Linked DNA regions of Homo sapiens. The protein of the gene in region 2 interacts with the protein of the main gene of each other region in a pairwise test. Each region holds a gene or a part of one and is shown on either strand. Other genes may lie near its edges.

Region 1 (4,395 bases), on a different chromosome or scaffold from region 2:
ACTAAGTCTACAGAGTTATTTTTATAATATTACGGATATTAACACGTCCTGGAGAACCTGCAAACACTTATTGGAGGGAGAACCATACAGCCTTCAATCATAGCCCAGGACTTTTAATGTGATACATCACTATGGAGCAAGAATTCAGGAAGATAGTTCTAGAAAAAGGGAGGGGGAGGAGGAAGAAGGGGTAGTGGGGAAGGCGGGAACTCTCCCAGGTCCACAGCACAAACCCGGGGAATACGCGCGCTTTAGGAGCCTGCAGAACGGGCTTCTGCAAAGCGCGCTGCAATAAGAAGCGCAGGAACCTAGTACAGCAGACGTTTCAAGTGCCGCGCATCAAAAGACGGGGCCCCCGTAGTGTAAGCATTCTTGGATGCACTATGCACTTAGCAGATTTCTATACTTGCACTCTGACATAAGTTCATTACTAAAAAGCTTAAGTCCTTGGAGCTTTCTCAAAAAGCACGTTGGGTTTCTTGCAGCGTGCACCTGAGCAGCGGACTGCTCTTCAAATTCAGCCCCAAATTCCCGCTCCCGGAATGCACGGTGGGTTCTGAATTCAAAAATCCAGAGCAAGCAGCCTTCTAGCCAATCATTGCACCTTATCACTATCCTGACTTTGGCGCGAACTGTACAGAACTAGATAGTCCTATCCATTTGTCACTAATTTCTAGCAGGGGAGAGTCGTGCTCAGAACCCAATTGCATGGTAGACTAACAAGTTCACTTTCGCATGTTTGGGCTGCTGAACTTTCCGCGCTTTCCTCAACGCCATCTCTCGGTCTTTTCCGTGGGGGAAGCAAAGGGCATCGCTCCACCCAAGTGCTGCGGGGTAAAGACGGTTGGGCGGAGGAACACTGCCAAAATACCTCTCCACGGGCTGGTGCGAGGTCTCACCCCGCCCCCTCGCCCCCTCGCCCCCTCGCCCCCTCGTCTCCTCGCCCCCAAATCGGCTTTCACAACCCAGCCGCTTTTTCCAATCTGGGTCTCTGCTCAAGTTGGGAGTAGTTAGTTAAGCAGCAATTTGGGGCCACTGTTCCCCGCAAAGCATGTTCACTACCTGCACCATGCTTGCGCACGCTCGCCCTATTTTTCGTACGCCCTGGACACGAATGCGTCCCCCGGGGGTCGCACTCACAACTAGATGTACTGTGAATGCTAATAGGGGGCGTTTAACCGACGCGTGTGCATACGCTTTGAACCTGCGGAAGGCACCGTACCGCTATATAGGGCGCGCAAGTGCCAGACGGCGCCAGAAAGAGGTCCCGGCGCCAGAAAAGCGCTCGCCCGAGCCATTGGTCCCAGAGCCAGTTCCAACCCCGGGATCGCCGCGGAACCACGCACAGAGTCTGCAGAAGTGCACAGCTTTATCGACAGCGCTTGAAGCATGGAGTCTCTTCGCGGGTACACCCACAGTGATATTGGCTACCGCAGCCTGGCAGTCGGCGAGGACATCGAGGAAGTGAATGGTTAGTGCTTGGACAGGGACGGGAGCTTTCGCGAACTCCAAAAGAGGAATTTTTCCCTGGGAGAGGCAAGCGGAGGAGACGCTGCGCGGCTGTCGCAGTTGCTCTTCCATAGCGGGTCCCCTGCCTCCTCCAGCCCACGCGCCGTGGGCTCCAACGCCCTGGTGTCTCTTTTGCTTTCCTCCCTTCCCAGATGAGAAACTTACCGTGACCTCGCTGATGGCAAGGGGAGGAGAGGACGAGGAGAATACACGGTCCAAACCTGAGTACGGAACAGAAGCGGAAAACAACGTTGGCACGGAAGGGTCCGTCCCCTCGGACGACCAAGACCGTGAGGGTGGCGGCGGCCACGAGCCGGAGCAACAGCAGGAGGAGCCGCCCCTGACCAAGCCGGAGCAACAGCAGGAGGAGCCGCCCCTGCTCGAGCTGAAGCAAGAGCAGGAGGAGCCGCCCCAGACGACCGTGGAGGGGCCACAGCCGGCGGAGGGGCCACAAACCGCTGAGGGACCACAGCCCCCAGAGAGGAAACGCCGCCGCCGCACCGCGTTCACGCAGTTTCAGCTGCAGGAGCTAGAGAACTTTTTCGATGAATCTCAATATCCCGACGTTGTGGCGCGGTAAGTGGCTTGCCCCGGAGGCGCCCAGTTCATCCCGGGACCCTTTCACCGGAGCTAAAAGCCACGTAGGGGGCTCACGGGCGCTGCCTCCGCCCTTGGTTTTTGGGGGACGTGGTGGGCGGGGCGCGGAGGATGTAAAAGACTGGGGCGGGACTAGGGTAAAGCGAGTGAGGCAGGGTGGGATCCCGCCTTTATTTAAAATTTTGGCAATTTGCTCACCATGGGTTGTTTTTGCATTAATTTTGATACGTTTTAATATTGCATTAAAATATTATTTGTCTTGATTATCGAGTTTTTTAGCGCCATTTACATTGTGCGCGCGTGGCGAGCGCCTCACTCTTTTCGCCCTAGTAACCGCCCTGCCACGTGGAGCGCACTTTTACAACCAGGGGGCGGACTTTTGAGCTTTCGGTAGCCAGCGACCCCTTTCCTTCGCTAGCCTCATCGGAGCCCTCCTCATACCGACCCGTAGTGTACGAAGGGGCAGGCCTTTTCTGGCCAGGCTGGAATGGGGGGCGGGGGGCACCTGGACAGGTCAGAGTAGGGTTAAGGGGACCTTTCTGGCTTCGTTGTACTTAGCCTTCGCCCGGCAAAGAGCAAAAAAGAATTTCCCTAGGGCGCGCTTGGCCGATGTGGTTTGGAGTTCCCTCCCTGAGAGTTCACCTCTCCTTTTTACGATAAACAGAAATACTGTGGTTCAATACAGCGCTTTAAAGGTGTTTTGGCATTTAATTTTTTTTTGTTTTTTTTTTCACGGACGGACTTCCCAAGGAAAGATTTCCAGGGTTGTTCTCTGCTGTTTCACAAACAGAAGAATTGAGTCATATTCAGCTAACAAACCATCGGGCGCTTTTACATATGTTTCCTTTTTCTATCTTATTTAACAGCGAAGTTGTTAATGGGAAAAACCTCCCTAAAGCGAGTCCCAACCGTATTACAGAAAACTGCACTGGGAGGTGGGGGAGAGAAATAATGTACATTCATATATATATATATATATGTTTTTTTTTTGAGACTCACTCTGTCGCCCAGGCTGGAGAGCGGTGGCGCGATCTCTTCTCGCTGCAGCCTCCACCTCCCGGGTTCAAACGATTTTCCTGCCTCAGCCTCCCGAGTAGCTGGGATTACAGGCATGTGCCACCATGCCCGGCTAATTTTTGTATTTTTAGTAGAGACAGGGTTTCACCATGCTGGCCAGGCTTGTCTCCAACTCCTGACCTCAGCAACCTCTTCGGCCTCCCAAAGTGCTGAGCCGAGCCACGTTCATATTATTGCATTTTATCCACAACTCCAAATACTGAATATTTGTAATTTTCTCCCCTAAGAGAGAGACTTGCAGCACGCCTGAATTTGACTGAAGACAGAGTGCAGGTCAGTAAATCTTGAAAAAGCAATTTGGCAGGACAGCCATTCTAAAGCATGCTTTAGGTTTTGTCCTGGACATTCTCAAGCTGGTGTTTTCTGTTGTCTTTTCCATGGTTGACAAATAAGTTTTGAACAGTAGGGGCTTTAGTGGTAGAAAATAGGATGTGTAAACTTCAGATTATGGAAATTGCTCATAAACAGAGGAAATATGATTTCCTAAAGGAAAAAAAGATGTGTTTTCATCTTCCTTCTATATCTGTATCTGTCTTTCTCTCCATATAGTGTATGCACATGTATATGTACATATACACATTTACGTACACATATATGCACATGTATACACATACATACATACATATATCCCAATAAATAAGATTAACCTTCTTCTAACACTGGTATCCTCTAGGGAGAATGTTAGTTTTCCCTAAAGGATTACTTCTATATGGAGTCATGTTCGGGGCTCAGTCTCACCTCGGAAGTATTCAAATTAATGCACAGAATAGCTCAGTTTTATAAGAAGGTTCACTGTACTAAATTATTTAAAATATTTAAAACCTAGCACAAGCACTTAGCTAAATGAGTGAATTTATATTTAGGCATTGGAGTGAAGGAGTAATTCACACACAGAACACAGTACTAAAGTAGGGAGTGGCAGCCCTAAATTTTAATTTTTTGGGAAGATTTTGATGTCAGCCTGAAAACATTGCTAACATATTTCAATTAAGTGGTAATGGGGAAAACATTTGTAAGCTTTGGAAAACTGTCTTTAAAAAATGAAACAAAAAAAGAAAGAAGAATTTGAATAAAATTCCCTTACCTAAGAAGGGTGGAAAGATTAGAGAAGAATTGTATACAGTCAAACACATGCATTGCAGATGTCACACAAATTCAACTTTATGAAACTACCAAATGCATAAGAGAATGTTCGCTTTTTTGTAAACACCT
Region 2 (3,817 bases):
TTGATTTTCTTTTTTTCTTTCATCACATGTCCCAGCATTTTATTTGGTTAGTTACATGTTTAGTGGCTTTTCCTTCCTCTAGCGGTAACTCTGGGAGGCAGCAGCTATGTCTTACTAGCGATGGGTGCAGTGCCTGGCACAGAGCAGGACTCAACATACACCTGACGAGACGATGTGCAGACTGATAGTTACCAAAGACCAATGTCACCTCCTCGGCATCACGCTGCCTGCCCCGAAACGTCAACGCTGTCCACCAATCGCAAAAACAGACATGATAAAAGAGTTGTCCCTTTTCATTAGTACAATGCTAACCAGTGGCCAAAAAAACCACAAAACAAGCAAAAGACAATAATAAGAGATACCAAGTAAATTAGGTAGTCAGTGCCTTCATCATTAAACATTCCCAGAATGCATCAAAATGACATGAAGGAATCACACAACACATTGGAAGAGAAATCCTTGCCTTTCAGATCTTTCACGTAGCCCTCTTTGCAACTGTGCATGAGCTGAAGGATCCACTTGTGTTGGGCTCCAATGCATTGCCAAGCAGGGTCACCAGACGCATGAAGGTCAGACAGGTACCTGAAAAAGCAAGTCCAAGGTTGAGGCCAAAGGGAAATGCTGGCATATTTTAAAATCATTACTTTTTAAAGGCTAAAATTTTATCAATTAGTCTTGTGCCCTGTCAAATATTAGTCTTTAATATTTAATTCTCAATGAAATATATTCAAATTTCTTGGCTAGGTGAGATGGCTCCTGCCTGTAATCCCAGCACTTTGGGAGGCTGAGGTGGATGGATCACCTGAGGTCAGCAGTTCAAGACCAGCCTGGCCAACGTGCTGAAACCCCGTCGCTACTAAAAAAAAATACAAAAATTAGCCAAGTGTGTTGGTGCAAGCCTGTAATCTCAGCTACTCGGGCGGCTGAGGCAGGAGAATCGCTTGAACCCGAGAGGCAGAGGTTGCAATGAGCTGAGATCTCACCACTGTACTGCAGCCTGGGCGACAGAGTGAGACGCCATCTCCAAACAAACAAACAAGCAAACAAAAAATAAAAAAATAAACAGCAGAGCTTTAAAATTTTTTCATATAAATGATAAAACTATTAAAAACAGCTCTTTGTAAAAAGATAAGGACAATTTGCAGTGATCCTATCTACCTGATGAGCATTTTTCTTTATATTTATATTTAGTTCACAGGAGTTTTTCTACTTAGTTCAGAGTCATTATATTAGACACAGGTGGGAGCCAGCAGATACTGGGCAAATACTTTTAAAATTTCAGATGTTTTTTAATTCCTTTCTGATATGAAATATGGCCACGAGATGGCAGTATGGCACCGCTTTCTAAAACTAGCTAAATGAGGGCTAACCGAACTGTGAAGAGATTTGGTGACAACACTCACCTCTAAAGTCCACACTCACGACTGAGAAAATATTTCTCTAGGAAATATAGTATAGTTCGGTGTTTTTCTTAGTTTCTAAATATTCTTAAAATATATCAAGTCTTTGTCTATAAAACACCCAAATCCATAGAGACCATTTACTTCCATAGAAAAATTTCTGTCAAATATTATTTAAGATTTGGCCCTCAGCCCTCACAAAATATATAAATATAGCAAGCTAAATCCAATTAAATCAACTCCAAAAGCATGTCCAAATGAATTTATTGTCTTAAAACTGTTGTTAAGCCATATGCCATTCTTTGTCTCTGGGTTAGAGGTTTTTGTTCAGTGGTAAATCATCATCAATGGCTCCAGGCTGACCTTGGGCCAGACCTCAATCCCTCAGGGGTGCACCCATGCTTCCAGCCCATTCTTCCAGTAGTGAGTGTGTGTTACTCAGGTATCTCAATCAGCAGCCAATCAGAGGAGAAACAAATCCACTTTGTAATATGTTAGCAACAAATAAAATGCTGAGAACACTGACATTCCCAGCTGATGGGGAGGGACTGGGTGCTGTGGGGAGCCGGATATCCAGGCATCTGCAGACGGGCCACACTCAGGCTGCCCAGAGGTGGCTGAGAGCTGCCATCTCCTCCCCCTTGTGACCACCTACAGGTTGCAAACAGGATGTGTCTCTGTGCTGAGAAAGTGGCAGGTCAATTAGAAGGAAGAGCTTTACTCAGATTAAGAAGTCACCAGCACTCCTCCTCATAAATGAGAATAGTATCCTGAGAAGAAAACTACAATCTAACAAGTTACATTTAGCTTGGCACAGGGGATTCATTTCAGATTCCAAAATGCAGTCTGATTCTTTCTCTCACACAAGGCTTTCTTCTTTTATTACCTGAACGATAAATATAACAAATAGTACACTGTGTCTTTCTTCCCAAAGAACGTGATTCTATGCTTTCTTGCTGGGGATGATGCATTTCAGCGTTCTCCCTAAATAGGCTTGTTTTGCCTCCCAACACCTCTGCAACGCTTTCTCCTAACACTTTCACTCACGTAGCCCTCAGATTTGGTGTTAGTAGTAAAATAAAGAGATACTCTTTTAGGGACGGTGTTCCTTTTAATGTTTAAATTACTGAATAGGAGTGTAGACAGTTCCGTACAAGGGTTCTTTCTCCAGGAGTACAGCAAGAGGAATCAATAAGCTTTGCTTAGTGGCTTTTTACATTATACGTCTCTTTAAAATGTTGACTGTGTCCTTGCAAAACCTAATAACAAAAGACTTTTTCTATCATCTTATTAACGGGTATTAAAGTAAAGGAGTTTATAAAAGTTTTACAAAGCAAGATAAAGTTGTTCTTTTAGAAATTCTAGACTCAGTTCAAAAGCATGACAACTTGTGCTGGGCTCTTCAAATAAGTTTCTTGTTTCCTTTCAGTATGCAGCTAAAAATAAGTAGTTACATTTCAAAACTCTGTTTAGAATGATACATGTTATCGCCATTTCTTTTAAAACTGCATATTAAGAACACTTTAAAAAGGCTTTTTAGATTCAAAAGCAATGTAAAGAATGTTAATTATGATTAACACAGGCTCAGTATTTTAAAATTTAAGAATAAAGGAAGTTTTTAGTCATATTCTGACATGATCTTCTCACAGCTACCAGGGATAAGATCACACTGCTGTGGAAAGGAATATGCAGAGCTTTGCTTCCTGCCAACATCAAGATAGAAATAAGGAGAGGGAGAAGAATAGGGAAGGTTTAAATTAGATAAAATAGTGAATGATATTAGAAAAAATTGTGAACAGTAAGACAATATAGTGGTAATCTGATTTTCCCCTCTACTATGCATAATCTGGATTATGTAAGAAAACTAATACATTTTTGTTCATGATAAAGCTATCTCTATTCCTACTTGATGCTCATAAATTTCAAAGTCCAACAGGTATTTGACCTGGTTCTGATCTTATTTTTCTATTTCTTAGCGACTAAAAATTTCATTTAAAAAGGTAACAATTGCTCAGTATTTTCTCAAAGCATCGTAAATAAAATAATCATTAACAAATACATAAACTATTGTTGACTTGTTTATATTTTTGCTCTTTTGCCTTTAAGATGACAGGAAAAATCGTAGTTAAAAGGCTCCTTAAAAGAATCTTTTTTGGCACTACCACCTTTTAAACGATATCCAGTAAGTTATATACTCATAAAAACTGCACATGAGTTATCCATATAGATGGTAACCCACAACATAAAGAATTTGTACACTCAACAAGATTTAACACACTACTATAGGCAAGTTTAACATAACAAGTGTAAACAGGCCAGAAATATACAAAGCACACGCAGTGAAGGAGCAGGGCAGGAAACAGCAGCCTCAGGACGTCTGAGGCTACCCAGCTGCGTGTCCTGGACACTACGCTCAA

Evidence for each region.
Region 1: the proteins of EXOC2 (region 2) and ESX1 interact in a two-hybrid assay, tested with the Homo sapiens proteins (one large-scale study listed by BioGRID and IntAct).

The regions. Positions count from the first base shown.
Region 1 is NC_000023.11:104,251,844-104,256,238, reverse strand, and holds the start of ESX1 (homeobox protein ESX1), read left to right. Parts: upstream 1-1,305; 5' UTR 1,306-1,389; coding exon 1,390-1,471; intron 1,472-1,661; coding exon 1,662-2,085; intron 2,086-3,410; coding exon 3,411-3,456; intron 3,457-4,395. UniProt on the Homo sapiens protein: May coordinately regulate cell cycle progression and transcription during spermatogenesis. Inhibits degradation of polyubiquitinated cyclin A and cyclin B1 and thereby arrests the cell cycle at early M phase. ESXR1-N acts as a transcriptional repressor.
Region 2 is NC_000006.12:592,006-595,822, forward strand, and holds part of EXOC2 (exocyst complex component 2), read right to left. Parts: intron 583-3,817; coding exon 464-582; intron 1-463. UniProt on the Homo sapiens protein: Component of the exocyst complex involved in the docking of exocytic vesicles with fusion sites on the plasma membrane.